3 separate regions of the Homo sapiens genome follow, and all the other regions are linked to region 1. The links come from fine-mapping of genetic effects on gene expression. A gene starts in region 1. Each other region holds a variant in brackets. All regions are shown on one strand. Distances are from middle to middle. Region 1 holds the start of FCHO1 (FCH and mu domain containing endocytic adaptor 1). Region 2 overlaps UNC13A (unc-13 homolog A). Region 3 overlaps FCHO1 (FCH and mu domain containing endocytic adaptor 1).

Evidence for each region.
Region 2: its variant is fine-mapped to the expression of FCHO1 in whole blood (TOPMed, PIP above 0.99).
Region 3: its variant is fine-mapped to the expression of FCHO1 in whole blood (Lepik 2017, PIP 0.93).

What each region holds. Positions count from the first base shown.
Region 1 is chr19:17,747,517-17,755,691 of GRCh38, forward strand. FCHO1 (FCH and mu domain containing endocytic adaptor 1) reads left to right here and starts at 3,961. Exons shown (of 29, transcript NM_015122.3): 1 at 3,961-4,061; 2 at 6,801-6,845; 3 at 7,076-7,165; 4 at 7,602-7,675. The coding sequence starts at 7,649. FCHO1-AS1 (FCHO1 antisense RNA 1) reads right to left here and starts at 3,881. Exons shown (of 5, transcript XR_007067152.1): 1 at 3,700-3,881; 2 at 3,142-3,234; 3 at 1,767-1,847. RefSeq lists a silencer at 14-433 and enhancers at 6,119-6,639, 6,640-7,159.
Region 2 is chr19:17,620,817-17,628,991 of GRCh38, forward strand. UNC13A (unc-13 homolog A) reads right to left here. Exons shown (of 44, transcript NM_001080421.3): 32 at 7,047-7,124; 33 at 6,693-6,781; 34 at 5,817-5,969; 35 at 4,013-4,136; 36 at 2,726-2,731; 37 at 1,016-1,054. Among named protein-coding and RNA genes, the nearest start is that of UNC13A, 63 kb to the right of the region's middle. The variant C/T (reference allele first, on the strand shown) is at 5,014.
Region 3 is chr19:17,772,016-17,780,190 of GRCh38, forward strand. It overlaps FCHO1 (FCH and mu domain containing endocytic adaptor 1), which reads left to right. Exons shown (of 29, transcript NM_015122.3): 10 at 442-540; 11 at 630-726; 12 at 2,224-2,268; 13 at 2,379-2,463; 14 at 3,041-3,065; 15 at 3,441-3,498; 16 at 3,968-4,146; 17 at 4,232-4,256; 18 at 4,620-4,671; 19 at 6,122-6,213; 20 at 6,594-6,869. Among named protein-coding and RNA genes, the nearest start is that of B3GNT3, 19 kb to the right of the region's middle. RefSeq lists an enhancer at 4,412-4,751. The variant G/A (reference allele first, on the strand shown) is at 4,739.

The DNA of each region.
Region 1 (8,175 bases):
ACTGCGGGTGGCGTAAGGGGGGGAACATAAAAAGGAGCCTAGTCTTCGGCTGGACCAATCAGCGCGCTGAGCTGGCGGAGCTGGGCGCCTAAATGGCCCAATGGGGGGCCGCGCGGGATCAGAGCCCGCCCTGCCTCCTGGCGCCGTCGCGGGGGTGGGGACTTTCTAGGCCACGCCCCGGGGGCGGAGCCCGCCGGCAGCCGCGCCGCAGCCGCGGAGGGAGGGGCGGGGCGGGCTCCGGTGTCAGCGACCAAGCCGCAGGTGGCGGCGAGCGCGGGGCTCGGCCCGAGCTCAGGAGGTGAGTGTTGCCCCCCGGAACCCCCTGGGATACCCTGGCCCGCGCAGCCTCCCACGCGCACCGTGCCCTGCAGCCCCGGCGGCTGCGGAGGGCAAAGGCGCGGCGGGACGCGAGGGATGGAGAGCAGGGGGTTGGGGCTACGCGGTGGGCGCCCCGGCTTCCCCCTCCAAGTGGTAATTGGGGGTCCGCAGGCGAAAATGGGGACCGCTCCCCAAATCCCCCGTCTCCTGGCCTAGAACCGAGCGTGCACGGGGGCGGCGACGACGCGAGACCCCTCCCCAAATTCTTTTATTCTAAGCCTAGGTCTGGGTTCTGGGGCTGCAAAGATGGGGGCGCCGCTCCCCTTCCAGCCTGGAACCCTGGGCGGTGGCTGAGATGGGGACCACCCGCAGATTCCCTCTTCCCAGCTCCGGCCTGCAGACCACCGGGGACCGAGACGAGGGACCCCTTCCCTTTTCCTCCACTGTGAACCCCTATCCAGGCCTGGTGGCTGGAGGAGCTGGGGTGTCACCTGGCCCCTCCTCTAATCTGCCCCATCCCAGTCCTCCACCTTAAGGATGGGGTGGGGGGCGTTTCACTGGCATCTTCTGTGGGGACCCCAAGGTTGGAATTTTGGGGAGGAGGTCACTGTGGGGTCCCCTGCCTGGCACGGTTTATCCAGGCCAGGCCTTGAAGGGCCTGGAGCCTGGACTTGGGGGGGGGGTCCCTCTTTTACTGAGGGGCGGGGTGTACAGCTAGCATCTGTTTCTGGGGATTAAAATAAATCGAGGTAAATTAGGATCTTGCCAGAGGCTGGCTGTGAGTGGGGTGCGGAGGAGGCTTGGGGGGTGGGGGACCCCTCCATCTGCCTTGGATCCCCCGAGTCACCTGCCCCAGCTGCACTGGGGACCAGGAGGCAGTGTCGAATGGACCTGCTTCACTGGTGACCTTGGGCAGGTGACAGCACCTTTCTGAACCTCGGTTTCCTCTTTTGAAAATTGAGGTTGGGAGCTTCGGACCCTGCATTTTACAGATTCTGAACTCACCCAGCCCACATTTTGTCCAATGGTGATTCACTCTTTTGCTTAACATGTGGGTGGTTTGGGGTCAAGACAGCATTGGGTTTGGAGACCCTCCCACAGTGCCTTGCTATCCTCTCAGCCTCAGTTTACTGCACTGCAAAATGGGTTGATGATGACACTCTGATATTGGGGCTGAGGGCATGGGGACAGGGAGTAAAACATAGGACCAAGCTGCAATGGCTGGGATGGGGCATCGCCACCCTGGTCTCACCATTGGGGCCACTTAGGGCACACCCTGACCCACATACCATCACCCACGCCAGGGGTGAACCTGTTCTCGGGCGAGGTCCTGGGCAGGAGGGGGTGGGAGTTGCCAGGCCAGCTCATTCCCTGTCCCTTGGAGCGCCCTCCCAGTGGTGGGCATGGGGCTGGGAGTCTGACACCCCCAGGTTTGAATTTGCCTCTACCTGTGTGTGTGTTTTTCCCTTGGTGCCTTTGTTTGTTCTTCTGTGAAATGGGCTGAATTCCTCTGGGAAGATGGGAGGAGTCTGTGGGAGGAGGAAGCTCTGTAAATACAGACATGATTATTATAATATTAATGACAGTATTAGTGCTCTTTAAATCGGGTCACAGCTGACCAGGAGGAGGGAGGGGAAGGGGGAGTCTATCAAAGGCATTGCCTGAGGAGACTCCAGCACCTGGGAAAGTTGGGTACACAGTAGGCATTCAATAGATGTTTGCCAAATGAAGTGAGGAAGAGGGAGGGGACCCATGGGGAGGACAGAAAATTTCTGAGAATCCCTGGCTCAGATTCCCACTTGGTGGCCCGAGTCACTGTGTGACCTGGGGCACGTGTCTCAGTTTCCCCATCGTGGTGCTGGTTGAGATAAGATACTGCCTTGAGGTGTGGTGACGAGAATCAAGCCAGATTGTCTGTGATCGCAGCCCAGGTGGCGAGGCCAAGAGGGGAGACATGACATAGTGGGTCATTGAAACAGCATGGTACCTGCTTGAACCAAGTGACTGGTCCGTGGGAAGGATGAGAAAACCCTTGCTACTGGCCCTACTGTACATACACTGGGGTCCAAGAGAGAGGGAAATGTGAGATCCTGTTTCCCAGGATCCTGGAAGCCAGATCGTGGAAGGTCAGGAGTGGCCCAAGGTCATCAGGCAAGACGTCAGCGGCTCCGGACACCCAGCCAGGCACCACTCGATTCCCAGGATGGGAGCTCGGGTCTTGCCTTTGTTGCTGATGTGGTTCCTGCTTTGTTTTATCTGTTCTGGGGCTGCTCACATGTCTCAGCCCCAGGTTTGCAAGACTTGGTGCCGGGAAGGCAGGATGGGGACCTCTGAGTCAGCTGGCAATGTGCTGTGTAACCTTGGGCAAGTCTCCGGCCATCTCTGGGCTTTGTGCTGGTACTGTACAGGCTGGGAGACTTGGGTTCTAGCAGGGCTGACTTCTCCATCAGACCCAAAATGCCCAGTGTCTCAGGCTCACAGTGCTTTTAGGGGTCCCTAGGTTGATGTTTTCACTTCTTTTAAAATCCAAAGGGAAAAAAATGAACTCTTGGGTTGAAGGAAACATTTTTGTGTATAATATTAATATATTTGTCTTTATGTCAATGTAGTTGTAAAATACAGTTTTGTTTTGTTTTGTTTTTGAGACAGAGTCTCTCTCTGTCACCCAGGCTGGAGTGCAGTGGCTCGATCTCCGCTCACTGCAACCTCCATCTCCTGGGTTCAAGCGATTCTCCTGCCTCAGCCTCCCGAGTAGCTGGGATTACAGGCATATGCCACCCCACCCAGCTAACTTTTGTATTTTTAGTAGAGACGGGGTTTTACCATGTTGCCCAGGCTGTTCTCGCACTCCTGGGCTCAAGCAATCCACCTGCCTCGGCCTCCCAAAGTGCTGGGATTCCAGGCATCAGCCACCACCTAAAATATAATTTTAAATTTCTTTTGTAGTGAAGGAAAGCGCTCATGAATGCAAAAATGTCTTCCCCTTTCTTTTCTTTTTTTTTTTTTTTTGAGATGGAGTCTCGCTCTGTCGCCAGGCTGGAGTGCAGTGGCGCAATCTCGGCTCACTGCAACCTCTGGCTCACTGCAACCTCCACCTCCCGGGTTCAAGTGATTCTCCTGCCTCAGCCTCCTGAGTAGCTGGGACTACAGGCATGGGCCACCACGCCCAGCTAATTTTTGTATTTTTAGTAGAGACGGGGTTTCACCGTGTTGGCCAGGATAGTGTCAACCTCTTGACCTCGTGATCCACCCACCTTGGCCTCTCAAAGTGCTGGGATTACAGGCGTGAGCCACCGCGCCTGGCCATGTCTTCCCCTTTCTGAGCGCATTTCCCTCTCTGAGCCTCAGTTTGCCCAGTCTGTGAAGTGGGTATCGGCCTACCTCAGGATGGCAAGATGTTGAATGCCTGGGCCAGGGTTGGTGCTCAGTTATTTCCCAATTGCCATGATTAATATTTGTTCGGTAAGAACAGCTCCAGGTTCAGGCCGGGGGGCTCCAGGTTCAAGCGCCTCTTGTTTACTCACCCATGGCCTGTGTGGTTCCAGGGAGGTCCCATGGGTGCTGATCGGGCGGGGGAGGAAAGGTGGCGGTTGGATGGTAGGCGGGGCGGGGTGAGCTTCCTGTCCCCCCCCCAACCCATGCACACAAGCCTCCAACTTGGTGCTGACGGAAGTGGCCTCGTGGCTGTCTCCTGGCGCCTGCCCCGTCAGACAGGGGCCCCATCCCACTCGCTACCCTGTCCGGTGAGTTTGAGCCCTGGCCAGTAGATACCCATCATCTCGCCTTGGCCCCCCTCAGGAACAGAGGGGAGGCCCCCCTGCCCGGAGCCTGGGTTTCAGGAGAAGTAGCAGGTGTCACTTCCTGGGCTGGCCAAAGCCTGCATGGGGCCACCCGTTGCCCTGCCCCCCGTCCCCCATTCCAGCTGTGAGTGGTGGTTTGGGTTAGGGGGGCGGCAAGGGGAGCTTGGAAACCCAGAGAGCCACGCGTGATGGTTTCAAACAGGAGGTCATTGGCAGACAGACCAGGGGCAAAATCACAGTCAGCCGGGACCAATGATTGATCTCTCTGTGCCTCGGTTTCCTTCATAAAGTTGGGGTTGCCTCTGAGGGCATGGCATGAAGATTGGATGAGCAGATGCGTGTGAATAGTTGGGTACAGGGTCGCACACATACTGGTGCTCCATGTGTATCTGTCTGCCAGAGGTGGGGTGAGGCAATCTAATTGAAACTGTGAAAACAGTAGTGAGATTCTTGGTTTCTGGGGAACTTGGGCTCCTTGGTTCCTGGGATCTTCTAGAACAATGTTGGCCATCCAATACAGCAGCCATCAGCCCCATGTAGCTACTGAGCCTTGGAAGAGAGGCTGGCACAGCTGAGGAGCTGGGCATATAATTGTATGTATGTATGTATGTATGTATGTATGTATTTAATTATTATTTTTTTAAGACAGAATCTCACTCTTTCAACCAGGTTGGAGTGCAGTGGGGCAATCTTGGCTCACTACAACCTCCGCCTCCCAGGTTCAAGTGATTCTCCTGCCTCATCCTCCCAAGTAGCTGGGACTACAGGTGTGTGCCACCACGCCCTGCTGATTTTTATATTTTTTGGTAGAGATGGGGTTTCACCATGTTGGCCAGGCAGGTCTCGAACTCCTGACCTCAAGTGATCCACCCACCTCGGCCTCCCAAAGTGCTGGGATTACAGGCGTGAGCCACTGCGCCCAGCCAATTGTATTTAATTTTACTTGGTTTAACATTAATACAAAAATTAATACAAAAATTAAGGCCAGGGGTTGTGGCTCATGGCTGTAATCCCAGCACTTTGGGGGTCCCAGGCAGGAGGATGGCTTGAGCTCAGGAGTTCGAGACTGGCCTGGGCCACACTAGTGAGACCTAGTCTCTACAAAAAAAAAAAAAAAAATTTATTTTTAATTAGTTAGACATGTAGTCCCAGCTACTCGGGTGGCTGAGATGGGAGGATCACTTGAGCCTGGGAAGTCGAGGCTGCCATGAGCTGTGATCATGCCACTGCACACTCCAGCCTGGGTGACAGAGCAAGAACCTGTCTCCAGAAAAAATAAAAAAATAAAAAAAACTTAATACAAAAATTATTCAGGCGTGAGCCTGTAGTCTCAGCTACTCGGGAGGCTACTATTCAAGGCTCCCTTGAGCCTGGGAGGTGGAGGCTGCAGTGAGCTATGATCGCACCACTGCACTCCAGCCTGGGCAACAGAGCGAGACCCTGTCTCCAAAAAAAAAAAAAATTAAGTCACCACATGGGGCTAGTGGTTCCCATGCCAGTCAGCACAGCTCTAAGAGATTTGGAGATGCTTAGGGTCCTGGTCATGGACAGAAGCTAAGAAATGATATGGAAATTTAGGGCTTTTCCCCTAGGGATGTCAGTGTAGCATGCTCACCACCCTACCCCTGCCACCAAACTAGGTTTCCTAAGGGGGTGTGGTGGGGACTGAAGTTTTTCAGGGGCCCTGTCATTAACCAGTGCAGGGTTGGGAATGTTTGTTGAAACAAATAATTCCTTGCCCAGTGAACTCCTATTCATGCTTTAAAACCCCAACTCCCATGAGCCCTCCTTTAGTCCAGGTTCTTTTGGACCTTGTCCCTCCATCTGGCCCAGCCCTGACCATGCAGGACGGTGATATCTGTGTCCAGCTCTGTCTCTCTAGACTGGGGACTCCTGCAGGGCCAGGCCCGAGGCTGAATCAACTCAGGGACCCTGACATTGTTCTAGTCTGGGTGAGCAAGTAGGAGGTCTTGGGTGACTCACAGAAGTCCCGGGATTGGAGGCTCAATGATAATGGGTCCAATTAAACTAACTAACTTTCTTTCTTTTTGAGACAGGGTCTTACTCTGTCGCCCAGGCTGGAGTGCAGTGGCGCCATCTCAGCTCACTGCAACCTCCGCCTCCCAGGTTCAAGCGATTCTCCTGTCTCAGCCTCCCAAGTAGCTGGGATTACAGGTGCCCGCCACCACACCTGGCTAATTTTTGTATTTTTAATAGAGACAGGGTTTCACCACTTTGGCCAGGCTGGTCTCAAACTCCTGACCTCAAGTGATCTGCCCGCCTCGGTCCCCCAAAGTGCTGGGATTACAGGCGTGAGCCACCACTTCTAGCCTAAACTAACTTTCAAGATTAGGTAAACTGAGGCACAGAGAGGGGCAGCCTTGCCCAAGGTCTTGCTCAGTCCTTTCCTGGGGAGGCCCCGGGAGCTTCCCCATCCTGTGGTCACGGGTCCCTGTCACTCCTGCCACTGTTCCTACGAGGCTCCCAGCTGCTACCGAGCTGCCTGTGGGGTCATGAATTATGCATGAGGCCTGCAGGCTCCAGTGACAAGCCTGGCCTCTAGAACATGCCAAGGACACTGCCTGTCCGTCCCCTGCCGGGCGGCCTGACCCAGCCTCTTGTGCAGAGACACCTGGGGCTCCCCGGCAAGATCCCTTCTAAGCATTCCTTCTTATTTTGCAGATGGGGAAACTGAGGCACGGAGCTGGACAGTGACTCAGACACCAGGTGAACACTGGCTTTTGAGGGCAGGGTTGGGACTCGTGGGGGCAGCAATGCCAGCTGGGTCATCACAGTGAGGAGTGAGCTCTGACTCCCAGGAGGGTACATAAGGTGAGGACTGTCCTAGAGGAATCAGAAGATCCCAGGGGACCCTCAGGGATACTTCAGGGACCCCAACCCCCATGTGGCTGATCACAGCCCCTGCATCTATTTCTCTTCAAACCCTTTTCCTGCAGGAGCTGCCTGGAGTGGAGCTGAGAGCTCAGGTCTGGGCTCAGCCAGTCCAGAGTGCAAATCTACTGTCCCTTCCTAGCTGTGTGATCTTGGCAAGTGACTTCCCCTCTGGGGGAGGGGAGGGCTCAGTTTTCCCATCTGTGAAGTGGATCAGAGCTTTCCTGTCAAGGTTAGGGGTCATCCAGCACTGCTCCTACCCACTGCTATGAACTCTTATACATGCCTAAAAACCCCACATTCCATGCCCCCTCCTCCAATCTAGACTCCCTCAGCTCTTGTCCCTCCACCTAGTCCAGTTCTGACTCTGTGGAATTGGGGGCATCTGTGTCTTGTTCTGTCCCCCTCTACTGGAGCTACTTGGGACCAGCACTGGGGCTGAATTATCTCAGGGGTCCTGGCATGCTCTTAGCATTGGAGCTTTCAGTTCCTCCTTCATCCTTTCTCTCCTTCCTCTACAGGGAGGGACTTTCCCCCCACCAAGCCCACACTGGCAATGACTCTGTAGCTCAAACTTGCCTCTCTCTTCAGACAGGCACTGGACGGGGCCTGCAGGGGTCTCCACAGAGACCATCAGGATGTCGTATTTTGGGGAGCATTTTTGGGTAAGACCCACTCTTATTTAGGCGGGGGATGCTGGCAGGGCTGTGGGGACTTTTATGGAGATGGGAGGACTGGGTGAGTTGCGGTTACAGCCTTGGACAGGTAGAGGATCTGCAAGGGATGGAAGTTAAAGTGGGAAGAGTCAGGCTGGGTTTGAATCCACACCCACCCCAGACCTCACAGGCCTTACAACCTTGGGCAAGTCATAGCTTGTGTCATAGGGAGACCAAGGGCCAGAGTGGGAACGTCTAGGCAACCTGAAGTTGCCCCATGAAAAAGTGCAGAGTCAGTGCTCAAACCCAGGGCCAAACTGAACTTCCAGGACCCAGGGTCATTCCAGCCAGGGAACTTCCACCCCCTTCCCATCCTGGAGAATTGGGGGGTTTTCCTGACCTGGCGTCTCATGGCCTGTGCACCCCTCCACTGTCCAGGCTGGAGATCACCTCCTGTAGCCCAAGGGCTGCTGAGTGAGACAGAGTTGTTTTTATTCATTCATTTCCTC
Region 2 (8,175 bases), 130 kb before region 1:
CCCAGCCCAGGAGCTCCTCCCCAGGTCCTGGGTCTAATGGTGGGCCCCCTCCCCAGCTAGCACCTCCTCTGGTCCCCTAGCAGGGGTTTAGAGGTCAGACTCCTTGACTGCCAGCACACTCTCGGGGTACCCAGGAGGCTGGAAGCAGCCTCATCCCACAGTCAGCCTGCCCCAGGATGGGGCACCTGGGGAGGTGGGGAGATGAGACAGGGCTAGGAATCTGTCTCCTCCTCCATTCCCTAAGGGGCTGCCCCTATATCCCAGCACCCAAGTCTACAAAAAACATATTAACATATACTGTAAGTTCACTCAGTGCTGAAGAACCCATACACTAAACTACATACGTGCACTCCTAAACACTTGCAGGCACGTACACAATTATATCACACACAAAAACCCACACACCCTTCTTGACCCCACACGGATTCACATCCACATATAGGGTGCCTGGGACACTGAATGTGCCCCGCAAAGGGCTGGCAGAGAGAGTACGGAACCCCTGTGACCCACATTCACAAAGCTAAGACTCCATTTGTAGACACAAATGTACAACGATATCTTCTGCACAAGTGTACAGCAAGACAGCTGCTTGCGTGTTGCTGTAGCTCCCATCTCCTTAACAACAAACACCCATTAGCACAGCAACAAAAAGAAATCTACGTAAAAAACAACACGTCTCAGTCCAGGGTGGTGATCTAGCGTGTAGGCTCCTCAAGAAGGCACAGAATTTCAGCTGAGCCCAGGGCTCAGATGAGCCCTGTGGGTATTGCTGTGGGAGGATGGGAGCTGTTTGTGCACACACATTAGTTCACATGTGGACACACACACTGCACGTTCTGTCCCTGGAGAATCACTTCATCTCTGACTTCTGGTTTTGCAGGACTTGGTTAGGAGAGCTATCTCCTACCCACGACCCCCAGCTGCCCTTCCTGCCCAGGTGCACAGACGCACACACATGCACACACATGCCCAGACACTGGAGCTCAGGGCCTCAGTGAGACGAGGCCCTCATTACCTTTTCTAATCCCTTGCCATGTTTTCTCAAGAGGTTCCCCTGCAGAGATAATGTCACAGGGTGATCAACCTGGCAAGTCGTGCAGGGTGGGAAGCTGGGATGCTCACAGGAATATTCATGGGGATGGGGGAATCCACACTGCACAGGGTACTGGTGACTGGGTTGCATGGGGATAGTGTGTTTGTGTGTGTGTCTGTGTGTGTGCACACACGTGCATGCGCTTTAGTGACTCACTCTTAAATGGTGTGAGAGGCAGAGACAGGAAAGAGAGAGAAAGATACAGATACAGAGCTAAAGAAAGTCAGAAAGAAGGGAAAAAAGCCACTGCCAAAATATAATCCATTTACATTTACTGTACACATGAGACTCTTGGTTCTTGGGTTAACAGGAAAGCAAATGGGCTGCATATTCAGACAGATCTGAATTTGAATCCTGATTCTGGCATATATTTACTATATGACCTTGAACAAGTGACTCCTCTCTGAGCCTCAGCTTTCCTCATCTGCAAAATGGGGATAATAATATCCACCTCACTCAAAGGGTTATCATGAAGGTGAGCTGAAACAGGAGCTATGAGAAGGCCTGGCATATGGGGAGTCATTAAATGCGAATTCCTTTATTCCCCCTGCCTACAAATGCATTGCCTGTGGTTGGGTATGCTGCCACCAAGTGGTTATAGCCAAAGACCCAGGCTGCAGCTACCAGGAAGTAAGAGCCCTTGTAAACTTTTAACAAAGTGAAATCTTGTAACAGCCTTGTCTTGCCCACAAAGGGAAAATCTGAAGTTGTTTTGTCTCTGCTCTTACACATGTCTGCATATCACCACCACCACCACCACCACCACCACCACCATTAGCTCTGCCTCTGGGCCGGTCACTGAGAGTGCAGTGGCGCGATCTCGGCTCACTGCAACCTCTGCTTCCTGGGTTCAGGCAATACTGAGATGAGTATTTTAATGCATCATGCCATTTGGTTCTTAGAACTACCCTCAGGGAGGTGATGCAATGAGCCCCATTTTCCAGACAAGGAAACAGAGGCTGGGAGGTCAAGTGACTTCCCAAGGTCACAGAGAGAGACAGTGGCTGGGCTAGGATTTGACCCCAAGTCTACCTGACATCAAAGCCATGACAAAAGTCTCCCACTTGGGCACCTGGGTGTATGTCTGGGATTGGTGTGTGTCGGTGTGGATGGCGGGAGTTGGGTAGACAGGGTGGTGGGGTACCAAGGAATGGTCTGGAGCATGGAATTTCAGAGGAATCAGAAGTAGAGACCCTCATGGTGAGGACCTGCATTCTGGGAAGCTGCTGACAGTTCAGAGCCCAAAGAGGAGGTCAGAGGAATCCTGGGGTTGATCCTCTTTCTAGCTTCAGGGCGTCTGGTGACATCTGGGCACGGGAGCAAGGTTGGATTCTACCCTTAGACGGCAGGTCCGCTGCGAAGGAGGAGCTGGGCTTGGGGTTTGGGAGTGGGTAGTGGGGCTCCTCTGGACTTCAGTGGGACAGGGAGGGTGGGCGTGGTCTCCCTCCCTCCCAGCCCCGCCCCCTCCCCATGCCCCGCCCCAGACAGACACAGGCACATCTAGGCGGGAGGGAGGATGGTGGGTGAGGAGGGGGCGCTGGGTGGGTGGGGAGAGGGGTGCAGCGACGCGGTGGGCCGAGTCCAGACACAGAGAGGACGGACAGACAGACGGACAGACGGGACTCTACTTACGATCATCTGTCATCCGTGATGGGGGCGGGGCGGTGGGGGAGGGGGGAATAAGGTACCATGAGTCTCCCGGGAAGGCCAGGGAGGGGGCAGAGATGGCAGCACGGAGGGGCAAGACCCCTGCCCCAGCCCAGCCCAGAAGAGGTGGAAGGATGGGAAGTCCGAGCCTCCCCGACCATCGTCGCCCATCTATGGCCCCCGCTCACCCTCCCCAAGCCTCCGTGGTCCACCTGGGAAAGACCTCCCCACTCCCTAATGTGCCCACAGCCCACATGCCATTGCTGTCCTCAGGTTCTTGATGCCTCCCGGAGGGACCCACGCCCAGCTACATCCCTCTACAGATGTTTGGGTCCCCTTGGTCCCTAGAGATTATGGCCTCTGGTCTATCGGTCCTGGTCTCTGGATGGCCAATGATCTCTGCTTGACCTCTCTGACCTTGGATGCCCTCCATGACCTCTGGCTGACTTCCAGGAGCCCCTTGGTCTATTGATCTCTGATGTCTGAAGTCCATGGTGTCTCCCCTCTTTGGCTTTTGAATGAGCCCCAAAGCCCTTAGAAAAACCCATTGATGTCTATGCCTTCTCTTTTTTTTTTTTGTTTTTTTGAGAAAGGGTCTCGTTCTGTTGCCCAGGCTGGAGTGTGCAGTGGCGCCATCTCAGCTCACTGCAGCCTCTACCTCTTAGGTTCAAACAGTTTTCGTGCCTCAGTTTCCCAAGAAGCCAGGATCACAGGATCACACCCAGCTAATTTTTGTATTTTTAGTAGAGACGAGATTTCACCATGTTGCCCAGGCTGGTCTCGAACTCCTGACCTCAAGCAATCTGCCCGCCTCGAGCCTCCCAAAGTGCTGGGATTGCAGGCGTGAGCCACGGTGCCTGGCCAATGTCTATGCCTTCCGTGGCTCAAGGATAACCTTGATCCCAAAATTGACCTGTTTTCTAGATGACCTCTGACCTTTGAAAGCTATTTTGACCTACATGTGACCTCTATGACTTTAGTGGTCTCTTGACTCTACCTGATGTCTTTGACCCCAGAGAAAATACAATGGACTCTGAATGACCTCTTTAACTCTTCGATGATCTTTAACCCCTGTGTGAACTCTCTGACCTCTGAATGGCCCCCCACTGACCTCTGGTGGCTTCCATGACCCTTGAATGGCCCTTGAGCCTGGATGACCTCTCTGAGACCGGATGCCTTTGTTCTTACCCCCCAGCCTCTAGGCACCAAGTTTTCTGGGCTCTCGCCAGGGAGGTGGCCTAAATGTCCCCTCGGGCCCCCTGCAGGTCTCACCGTCTGGTCAGTGAGGGGCGGCAGGACGATGGTTTTCTCCATGGTGTTCATAACCAGCTTCCACAGCTCCTTCAGCACTCGCTTCAGCACAGTCTTCTCACAGATTTTGGCAAAGAGGGTCAGGCTGGGGACGAGGGGCAGGTCTGAGAGAGGGCCCAGCTCGCCCCCACCCACAGATCACCTTCCCTTAACAGGTGGGCAAGGCATTCCACAGATAGGAAAGAGGGCCCACAGCCTGTACAGGGACCCCTGGGTGGTTTGATGGGGCTATGATATCTGATGCATGAAGAGAAGAGTGAGTGGTGGTTGGACTAGTCAGCAGGGACCAGATGGGAAGGGGCCCCAATGTCTGGGAGGAAGGCTTGGGTTTTATCAGGATGGGGGTAGTGGGGAGCCATGGAGTGTTCAAGAGGGAGACACAGCCAGACTTTCATGTTTGAAAGAACAGTGTGGGGGATGAACCGAAACAGGAAGGATGGAGATCAGGGACTATGAGGGAGAAGGCCATGCCCAAGAGGAACAGGAGGGGAATGGTCAGAGGAGGGCAGACTTGAAAGGGAAAACAGCAAAGAGATTGTGGTTGGATGGATAGGGGTTGAAGGAGACAGGCAGTCCACCAAGATCCATCCACCAACTGATCCAGTCACCCACCAATCCATCCCTCCCCCAGTGGTCCTTAATTCTCTATTTCTTTTTCTATCCATCCATCCATCCATCTGTTCATCCATCCATCCTTCCATGCATCCTTCTACCCATCCATCCACTTATCCATTTATCTATCCATCCACCTGTCCATTCATCCATCTGTCCATCCATCTATGCATCAAAACATTTATTCATCCATCCAAATATTTCTCACCTATTAATCCATCCATCCATCGACCCACTCATCCACCCACCCCCCCATCTGTCCAACCATTTATGCATCAAAACATTTATTTATCCATCCAAATATTTATCCACCTATATCTATCCAGCATCCATCCATCTACCCACCCACC[C/T]ATCCAACCATCCATTCATCCATCCACCCATCTGTCCATCCATTTATGCATTAAAACATTTATTCAATGATCTAAATATCTATTGACCTATCCATCCATCCATTCATCCATCCATCCATCCAGCCAGCCAGACAGACATCTATGCATCAATCCATCTATACATCAAAACATTTATTCATTCATCCAAATATTTATCCACCTATCTATCCATCCATCTACCCACCCATCCATTTATTCATCCATCCACCCATCTGTCCATCCATTTATGCATCAAAACATTTATTCATCCATCCAAATATTTATCCACATATCCAACCATTTATCCATCCATCCATCCATCCATCCATCCATCCATCCATCCATCGTCCATCCAACCATCCATCAAGCCAGCCTGCCAGACATCCATCCATCTAAGCATCAATCCATCTATGCATCAAAACATTTATTAATCCATCCAAATATTTACCCAACTATCCACCCATCCATCTTTTTAAAACATCTATCCTCCCTCTATCCTTCTAAACATTTATCTTTTAATCCATGCGTCCACCCACCTACCCATCCCTCATGTCACCTATTCATCCACCATTCATTCATCCACACAAATATTTACTCACCAATCCTTCCAATTATTTACCCACCCAACTTTCCATCCCCTTCATGCCACCATCTACTCAGCCATCCAACTATCCAGTGACCACCCAGCAAACATTCCCTGCACACCCTCTCCAGCCAGTCCCTGGGTCTCTATGGCCCTGCCCCAGCCCCTCCCCGGCCAGCCCAGTCCACCTGGCCCAGCTCACTTGCTGTCCAGCAGGTCCATGATGGGCTGCAACACATTGTCCGCGTCCTGGGCCACGCTGCTGCAGGCACTGGCTGGCACATTGCCTGTGCCCTTAACCTGGCTAAGGATGTCACCCATCTGTTTGACACACTCTTCAATGTGCGGCTGGAAGCTGGGGACACAGAAGGGAAGGGCTCAGACCACAGGAAGGGCTGGATGAGGACACAGATGCTGATCTGTGGTCCTTGAGGTCATATCATTTGCATCACAGCACATAACCGAGCAAGAATGGAGAACAGGCCAGATGCGGTGGCTCACGCCTTTAATCCAAGCACTTTGGGAGGCCAAGGCGGGCGGATCACGAGGTCAAGAGATCGAGACCACCCTGGCCAACATGGTGAAACCCTGTCTCTACTAAAAATACAAAAATTAGCTGGGTGTGGTGGCATGCACCTGTAGTCCCAGCTACTTGAACCCAGGAAGTGGAGGGTGCAGTGAGCCGAGATCGCGCCACTGCACTCCAGCCTGGTGACAGAACGAGACTTCGTCTCAAAAAAAAAAAAAGAGTGGAAAATAGTAACTGCAGAACCAGGCAAAGGGATAAGACATTTGCCCGCATTGTTCATTTCATTCTCAAAATCCTACCCAGGTACTATTATTGTCATCACCCCAAATTTACAGAGCAATAAAAAAAAAAATAAGGCTCAGAGAAGTTAAGTGACTCACCCAAGGCCACACAGCTAGTAAGCAGTAAAGCCAAGATTTGAACTCAGCCTTGTCTAACTCTGAGCCTGCAATCTTCACCTCTACATCTGCTGAGCCTCCAGATGCCCCAGGCTTAGAGGGCTGAAGGCTGTTCCCTCCCCACTGCCCCCAGCCCTGGAGATGCTCCCACCTGGTAGCAAACACCCGGCTGAGCTCATCCAAGACGTTATTGAGTTTCACCTGAAGCTCCTTCAGGATGTCACTGGCTTCAGCATCCAGCTAAGGAGGGAGAAGGGACACCAGGCCAGGTTCAGTAAGTATCCACATGTACTGGGCATTTTCTCATCTGACCCAGGGAAAGGGATCCCAAGGGGCTGCAGGGGAAACTGAGGCACAGACCGTTATGCTGCAAGCCTGGGTTTAAGGCCATGGTTGAGCTGGAATTCATCCCCAGGCCTGGTGGCATATGAGCTCAGGGGCCTGCAGGGACACAGTGGTGGGGGTGCCCCATCCCTTCTCCAGCCCTGCCTCGGCCCTGCCTCACCTCCTTTCCTCCCATGGCTTCGAACATCTTCTCCAGCTGAACTCGTAGCTGTTGAGTGTTATTCATGAGAATGCAGGGCTGTGGGTGGGAACAGAGAGGGGAGTCAAGCCTCAGGACCTCTCCCCAGAGCCTCCCCTACCCACCGCCAGGGACCTTGGGATGGTTTCAGGGTCTGGGTCTGGAGGAAGCTGGGGTCCCATGGGGTCACCTGCAAATGGAAGGGAGCTTTTGTGCTCAGGTTCCTGGGCGTGTTGTTGGGGCGGGCATCTCTGGGGACTGGTGGGGGCAAGGAGGACTCAAGTAATCCCACGACCCCAGGCCTGGTGGGGGGTCCATGAGAGGGGCTGGGAACTCTGGGAGTAGCAGAGTTTCCTGCAAGAGCCCAAAGCTTTGCAGCTCACACCCTGAAGGCTTCATTTGCAACAGCCAGACAGTGACACACTGAAGGCGTGTGCCCTCACCCCGAGATATACACACGAGACCCCCCCCACAGATACACACACTCAGACATGCACAGCCAGACACAGCCATAGACACACACTCACACCACGCACATTCAACACCGCCATACCAAACCTGGTGAGACACACCCACCCAGACGTGCACAAACACACACACACACTCACACTATATGCAGTTAACTCAGCCAGACAAAACACGGTCACACACACCCAGACATGCACAGCTGGACACACACACAAGCATACACACACTCACACTATAACCAGTTAACACAGCTAGATAAAATATGAGACACACACCTAGATGTGTTGTATAGTTGAACACACATACTCACACATACATACACTCACACTATACCCGGTTAACACAGATGAAACATGGCTAGATACCCACACTCAGATATGTACAGACACACACAGATACACACATTCATGTTATACCCAGTTAACACAGCCAGACGAAACACAATCACACAGATACACACACTCATGTTATACCCAGTTAACACAACCAGACGAAACACAATCACACACGCACACTCAGACGTGCACAGTTGGACTCACACACACATTCATGCCATACCCTGTTAACAAAGCCAGACAAAACATGATCAGACACGCACACTCAGATGTGCACAGACTCACACACACACACACACGCAGAGTAT
Region 3 (8,175 bases), 24 kb after region 1:
GCCCAGACTGGTCTTGAATTCCTGACCTCAGATGATCCACCTGCCTTGGCCTCCCAAAGTGCTGGGATTACAGGCATGATACACCACAGCTGACCACTATTTCTGCTTCTTAAGTCTGTTTTTCTCTCTGGGGACATCACTCCCACACAGACATCCCCTTGTGTGTGTGTGTGTGTGCATGTGTGTGCAAGCATGCACATGTGTGCATCAAACTGGGCACCAGCAACCCCCACTTACATCCCATCAGCACATTGGCTCAGGAATGGAAGTGCCTTTTCCTGTAGAGTCAATGAAAGTCCTAGGGCAGACTCTCATTGGCCCTTCCCCAAATCAATCACTGAGCCAAGGGCTTAGGGTATTCTGATTGGTCAGGCTGAGTCATATGGCCACTTCTTCTTGGCCCTGACCTCCTTTCCACCTGCCTCTGCCCTCCTGCTTCAGCGCTTCCAAGCCATGGAGGAGACACACCTGAGGCACATGAAGGCACTGCTGGGCTCATATGCTCACTCGGTGGAGGACACGCACGTGCAGATTGGGCAGGTGAGTTGGGCAGGTGTGAGGAATGAGGCTGGGGTCACTGCTGGGCAAAGGGGCCTTGACCAGTTACACACCCCGCCCACCCGGCACAGGTGCATGAGGAATTTAAGCAGAACATCGAGAACGTCAGCGTGGAGATGCTACTCAGGAAGTTTGCAGAGAGTAAGGGCACAGGCCGGGAGAAGCCTGGTGAGTCAGGGCAGCCATTGGGGGTCGGGCTTCGGGGCCACAGCTGCAGACAGGCATGTGCCACCATGCCCAGCTAATTTTTTTTTTATTTTTTTATTTTTAATAGAGACGAGGTTTCACCATGTTGGCCAGGCTGGTCTCGAACTCTTGACCTCAGGTGATCTGCCTGCCTCGGCCTCCCAAAGTGCTGGGATTACAGGCGTGAGCCACTGCACATGGCCAGGCCTTGGTTTCTTCATGGGAAAAATGGGCTGCTGACAAGTCCAGCTCTCCAGCCTGATCTTATGTGTAAATGTCTTTGAACCAGATCCCAGAGGAGCCTTGAATGCCAGGCTTGGCTGATCAGACTTCACCCCCAGGGCCTAAGGGAGCCATTGAGGGTTGTTGAGCAAAAGAACAATTTGGGAATGCGCAGATGCAGGACTGGGAAGGAGTTAAGAGCAAAAGTTTTAGAGTGAGACGTGGGTTTGAGTCTTTTCTTCATCGCTTGCTGTGTGACCTAGGACCTGTGCTTTGACTTCTCTGAGCCTCAGTTTCCTCATCTGTAAAGTGAGGATGTAATAATGTTGCAACATTCAGTGATTTCATGCAGGTAAAGGGCAAAGGGTGTGCCAGGCACACAGTAGGCACTCACTAAATGCTGGTATACAGTTACGTCCTCAAGTCTTGTTAACTAGCAAAACCTGTTCTTTCTCCCTCCTGTCGCTCTGGCTCAGGCCTGGCTCAGGTCTCCCCTCCCTGCATGGGGCCCCACTCTTGCCCTTCACAGGCCCCAGATCTGTTTTGTCCTCCTCCTGCTCACACACCTTCCATGGCTCCCCATTGTTCTTGGGAGAGAGTTCCCACTCCTTATCCTGTCACTCAAAGCCCAGCCCACTGCACAGACGCATGGTCCATTCCCCGACCCAACCCAAGTTCCAGCCACAAATGCTGGAAGTATGTAGAAGTAGCTCATGTCACCCCCTGCGGTGGCACTGCCCTGCTGGAACCAGACCAGCCCCTTGGTCCATCCCACTTCTGATGATGTGGGGCTGGTTCTTGTCCGGGAACCTGATGGACCTTGAGTTCAGATCCAGGTGCCATTTTGTGGCCAAAAGTGTACTACCCTTTCCAAGCGCAGTCTCCCCACCCTCAATTTAGTTTCTTTCTCTCTCTCTCTCTCTTTTTTTTTTTTTTTTAATTTTTTTGAGGCAGAGTCTTGCTCTGTCACCCAGGCTGGAGTGCAGTGGTGCAGTCTCGGCTCACTGCAACCTCCGCCTCCTGGGTTCAAGCGATTCTCCTGCCTCAGCCTCCCCAGTAGCTGGGATTACAGGCGCCTGCCACCATGTCCGGCTTTTTTGTAATTTTAGCAGAGACAGGGTTTCACCATGGTGGCCAGGCTGGTCTTGAACTCCTGACCTCAGGTGATCCGCCCGCCTTAGCCTCCCAAAGTGCTGGGATTACAGGCATGGGCCACCGTGCCCAGCCCCTCAATTGAGTTTCCGTCTCCTGTCTCAGGACCTCTGGACTTCGAGGCATACAGTGCGGCTGCCCTGCAGGAAGGCAAGTACGTCTGGGCCTGGATGCCCAGGCTGGACCATGGGGGTGAGGGAGGCTGATCTGAATGTGAAAGGAGGCTCACAGTGCTCAGGTGCCCCCCAATCTATCCTCAGCGATGAAACGTTTGCGGGGAGCCAAGGCCTTTCGCCTTCCAGGACTAAGCCGGCGGGAGCGGGAGCCAGAGCCACCTGCAGCTGTGTGAGGAAGCACCCCTGCCCGGTCTGGCCCAGGCTAGACCGAGATCCCCTCCCCTGCCCAGGCTATCCCAGAAGTCCCCTCCTAGGATAGCCCAGGAGTATCCATATTCCAGGCTGGACCAGGATTCCCTCTACCTGAGCTAGACCAGGAGTACCTCTGCCCCCGGCTAGCTCAATATTACCGCTGCCCAAGCTAGTCCAGAATTCTTCCTTTTGCTAGGTTAGGCCAGGAATTGCCTGTCCCAGAGTAACGTAGCATCTTCCCTGCCCAAGCTGGCCCAGGATTGTTCTGTTTGCCAAGGCTAGCCCCGACTTTCCCTATCTTCACAAGGCAGCCCTTCAAATGAGTTCCAGGATTCCTTCCCTCCCAGGCTGTTTGAGAACACTCTCTACTCAGCTAACTTCAGATTCAACCCCCTCCCCAAGCAAGCCCCATGGTCCCACCGCCTCTAGGGCTAGCTCAGGGCAGTATCACAGTCTGGGAGCTGCCCCAGCTTCCATGTCCAGTGTTGGGGGCTGACAGGGGGCACCAGATGGGCTGCGGAAGCTGACACCAACATCTCTTCCTCCATCCCCAGAGATTTCCTGGAGCCCGATTCAGGGGTGAGTGATGTGGGAGGGGTCAGGCTGGGCTACAAGTGGAAGGAGTTTGATCCCACTCTTGGCTCCTAGAGTCCCGATCCCTACTGGAAACTAAAGAGCCGAGATTGAGGGGCGGGCTGGAGCCTGGGGGCTGGGTTCATATCCCACCTCAGCTGCAAAGTCCCATGGACTACGTGGGTGTGAATAATGTCCCTGCCGAAGCTCAGTTTGTCCCAGGAACCTGCCCACACACCCAGGGAAGACAGTCGTTGCCATCAGGGTTGGTTTTGAGGTCTGAGTCAAGGCCTGGGGGCAGGGCGGGGGGCGGTTGGCAGGGTGAGATGGAAGGTTCGATAGTGGGGCGCCTGACTCACTGCTGCCCCCTGACTCCCCTAGACATGTCCAGAGGTGGATGAAGAAGGTTTCACTGTCCGGCCTGATGTGACCCAGAACAATATCCTTCTGGCACCCCCTGGGGGCAGTTGTTGGCACAGCAAGGACAAAATTCTCCGTAATAACCAGTCCACCTTCAGCAGTCCTCTCTGTGTACATCCTGGAGAGAGTCTCCTTTGTGGATGAAGCCAACCTAAATGTAAACACCCACTCTATGGGGTCAGCACTGGGCAAGAGGGAGAGAGAAAAGGAGATCTAGCAGGGCTTCCTGGAGGAGGGGGCACCAGTGTTGGGGTTTTGCAGCCGAATAGGAGTTTGCCAGTTAGTTCTGGGCATGCTTGTGCAAAGGCTTCTCGGGGGGGGTGGGAGTGCTGGTGGGACATGGTGTCAGGACTGAAGGTGGCGCGTGGTGAGCGATGGGATTGGGCAGGACCTCGAAGGGTTTGAGCAGGGAGGGACGAGGCTGGATTGGAGAGCTGACTGGGGGAAAGCTTGTGTTGGGATTGGCTTGGACCTTGACTGCAGCCCACGCACGGCCGAGCCCTCCCGTTTCTCGTCCAGCGACTCCGACTTCGACGATGAAGAGCCCCGCAAGTTCTATGTGCACATCAAGCCTGCCCCGGCCCGGGCTCCAGCCTGCAGCCCCGAGGCAGCAGCGGCACAGCTCAGGGCCACCGCGGGCAGCCTCATCCTTCCTCCTGGCCCAGGGGTGAGGCGTGGGAGGGGTGCCCTGGGTGTTGCTAGAGAGGCTGGCTGGATGCATTCGTGTGTGATGTTGCCCACTTTGTCCACAGGGCACCATGAAACGCCATTCTTCACGTGAGTAGCCTTTGGTCTTCAGAGTGGGGAGGATCCTAAGGAAGGGAGGCTATGGGTTTGGGCTTGAATCATAACTCCGTTTTGTAACTTTGGGCAGGCTGCTTAACCACACTGACCTTCAGTCTCCTTTTCTGTAAAATGAGGTCATTATGAAATTAAGTGAGAGCTGAAAGGGGTAGCTGGGGCCAGGAGAAGCTAGCATCTGGAGACAGGCTCGCTTAGGCTTGAATCCATGTCTGCCTGATTTGCTGATCACCTTGGGCAACTGGCTGGACACCCCCGAGCCTCGGTCCCTTGGTCTGTGGAGTGGGGAGCATTGCAGGCAGGGTGACAAGAAGGCTGAAGGAGGTGCATCTCTTGTAGGGGACGCTGCTGGGAAACCCCAGAGACCTCGGTCTGCCCCCAGAACCAGCAGGTGGGTTCCACACGAGTGGGCAGGTGGGGGCTGTCCCCACCTCCTCCCTCCACCTCCCCATGTCTCC[G/A]CCTGGTGTTCTCTTGTCCCGGCTGGGAGTTGACGTCATGCTGGGGTTTTTTTGTTTTTGTTTTTGTTTTGAGACAGAGTCTCACTCTGTCACCCAGGCTGGAGTGCGATTTCAGCTCACTGCAACCTCCACCTCCTGAGTTCAAGCGATTTTCATGCCTCAGCCTCCTAAGTAGCTGAGATTACAGGCACCCACCACCACGCCCAGCTAACTTTTGTATTTTTAGTAGAGACAGGGTTTCACCATGTTGGCCCGGCTGGTCTCGAACTCCTGACCTCAAGTGATCTGCCCACCTCGGCTTGCCAAAGTGCTGGGATTACAGGCATGAGCCCTTGTGCCTGGCCCATGCTGGCTTTTGAGGGACCATTTAGTCATTCATTTGATGAACATTTATTGAGTGCCTGCTGTGTACCTGTGCTGTTCTAGGGTCTGGGTTCTGAGACAGGTCTCCCTTCTCAGAGTCACATTCTAGTGACTCCAGATTTTAAGAATAGCAAATAGGGCCAGGCGTGGCGGCTCACGCCTGTAATTCCAGCACTTTGGGAGGCCAAGGCAGGCGGATCACCTGAGGTCGAGAGTTCGAGACCAGCCTGACCAACATAAAGAAACCCCATCTCTACTAAAAATACAGCATTAGCCAGGCATGGTGGCACATGCCTGTAATCCCAGCTATTCGAGAGGGTGAGGCAGGAGAATCGCTTGAACCTGGGAGGCGGAGCTTGCAGTAAGCCACTGTTGTGCCATTGCATTCCAGCCTGGGCAGCAAGAGGAAACTCCGTCTCAAAAAAAAAAAAAAAAAAAAAAAAAAAGCAAATAAGTTAGAGCATATTCGATACTTCTAAGTGCTACGAAGAAACTAAAGCAGATGACGCGAAGACAGGAGGAGGTGACTTCCCTTGAGGTGGGGTTGGGAACCTCCCTGAGGGGGTGACTTGGAGCTAAGCCCCAAAGAGGAGCTAGGAGGTGACTGTGAAGAGAGCTGGGGAAATGGAACTCCAGACTGGGAACAGGCTGCACACAGTGGCTCACACCTGCAATCCCAGCACTGGCCAAAGCAGCCAGATCACTTGAGGTCAGGAGTTTGGGATCAGGCTGGCCAGCATGGTAAAACCCCGTCTCTGCTAAAAATACAAAAATTAGCCGGGCATGGTGGCAGGTGCCTGTAATCCCAGCTACTCTGGAGGCTGAGGCAGGAGAATCGCTTGAACGCAGGAAGCGGAGGTTGCAGCAAGCTGAGATCGTGCCACTGCACTGCAGCCTGGCCGACAGAGCAAGACTCCGTCTCAAAAAAAAAAAAGACTGGGAACAGCATGTGCAAAGGCCCCAGGGTGGGATGAGGCTTGGGAAAAATAGAAGCAGCCCTCTTGGCCTCACCCTCTCTAGCTGTGCAGAGAGATTGCAGTCAGAGGAGCAGGTGTCCAAGAACCTCTTTGGGCCGCCCCTGGAGTCAGCCTTTGACCACGAAGATTTTACAGGTGATGGGGATAAGGGATTGGAGGGCATGGGTGTGGCCGGAGGGAGGTTGGGTGGGGCCATTGCAGAGTTAGGCCAATGAGGTCCCCTGGAAGCCAGGCTGGAGGGAGGACTAGTCCGTGTAGGGGTGGGCGGGGCCAGAGTGCGCGTGGGAGGGGCCATAGATAGGGTGGGGCCTTGGCCAGTGGGCGGTGACTGAGTGGATGGGCCGGACATTTGTGGAGAGGGAAGTCACCAGAAGGTGTAGCCTTGGGGGCGTGCACAAGGACTTTGAATGGGGGCCCCCCTGACCTTCCCTCGACGTGGCCGTGGCCTGCAGGAGGATGGGCAGGGACTCTGAGTGGGCGAGGGTCGGAGCTGACCGCCCGCTTCCCTCCCCAAGGCTCTAGCAGCCTGGGCTTCACCTCCAGCCCCTCCCCTTTCTCCTCCTCGTCGCCCGAAAACGTGGAGGATTCCGGCCTGGACTCTCCGTCCCACGCGGCACCTGGCCCCTCCCCAGATTCCTGGGTCCCCCGCCCAGGCACCCCGCAGAGCCCGCCCAGCTGTAGGGCGCCACCCCCAGAGGCCAGGGGTATCCGGGCACCGCCTCTGCCAGACTCGCCGCAGCCCCTCGCCTCGTCTCCAGGCCCCTGGGGGCTGGAGGCCTTGGCCGGAGGAGGTGAGTCCAGCGGGCCTGGGCCTGAGAGTTGCTGGAACCCTGGGCGGGGGATTGAGCGCCTGCTTTGGGCAGGGCCTGATCAGGCTGCTGGAGACACAGCCAGGACCAGGCAGGCAGAACCTCCCACCGTTGCAGGGACAACAATGAGATGGACATTTAGCAAGGCAGGCGGTAGCGGGTGCCAGGTGGGGGCCCTCCCTGAGGAAGGGACATCTGAGCTGAGATTTGAGGGAGGTGAGGACAGAACCACGTGGACATGAGGGGAAAGGCGTGCTGGGCAGAGGGCACAGCCCCTGCAAAGGTCCTGGGGCAGGAGCGCGCTAGGCCTGTCTGAAGAACAGCAAGGAGGTCTGCCTGCTGGAACGGGGTGATCACGGAAGGAGGAAGAAGAGAAGGCAGGGACCAGGAAGGGCCTGATGGGCCCAGGGAGGGCTTGTGAATGTTACCCTGAGTAACGCTGAGGGCCATGAGCAGGGGAGGGGCGGGACCTGACTCAGGGGTCACAGGCTCCCTCTGGCAGCTTCGGGAGTGAGGGCAGAAACCAGAGACTGGGGAGGCAACCAGGGAGGCAAGTAGGCGATGGGGGTAAGGGTGGCAGTGGGAGAAGCAGGTGGAAAGGTCGCTGCAGGGGAGAGTTCGGAGGAGTAAGGATGGGGAAGGAGCGGAGTCAAGGGAGGGAGGAGGATGGGGAAGGAGCGGAGTCAAGGGAAGGAGGAGGATGGGGAAGGAGCGGAGTCAAGGGAGGGAGGAGGATGGGGAAGGGGCGGAGTCAAGGGAGGGAGGAGGATGGGGAAGGGACAGTCAAGGGAGGGAGGAGGATGGGGAAGGGGCGGAGACAAGGGAGGGAGGAGGATGGGGAAGGGGTGGAGTCAGGGAGGGGTGGGGGACGTCGAGGCTGTGCCTTTAGGTGTCAGGTGCACAGTGGACCCTGAGTGTGGGGAAGGTCAGGTCAGAGCACCCCCTCCTTGAAGACGTCATCAAAACAGGAGGAGCAGCCGCCCAGGGAGAGCAGAGGAGAGGACAGCCGGGGAGCCCAGAGGGGTTGGAGACAGGAGGACAGCAGGAGATGGGGGGAGAGCGGCGGGATGGGCTCCTGGGGGCTGTCTGAGGAGAATGGGAAGCCCCCGAGTCAGAGGGACTGTGGGCTGTGACCACCCGAGGTCCCCAGTAGTGTCAACAAGGGCTCCTGGCACCCTCCATAGGAAAGGGCCAGGCTGGAGCCCGTTCAAGGGAGAGCTGAGTGGGTGGAGACCACAGAGTGGGGGCAGAAGAAGCTCTTTTTTTTTTTTTTTTTTTTGAGAGGGAG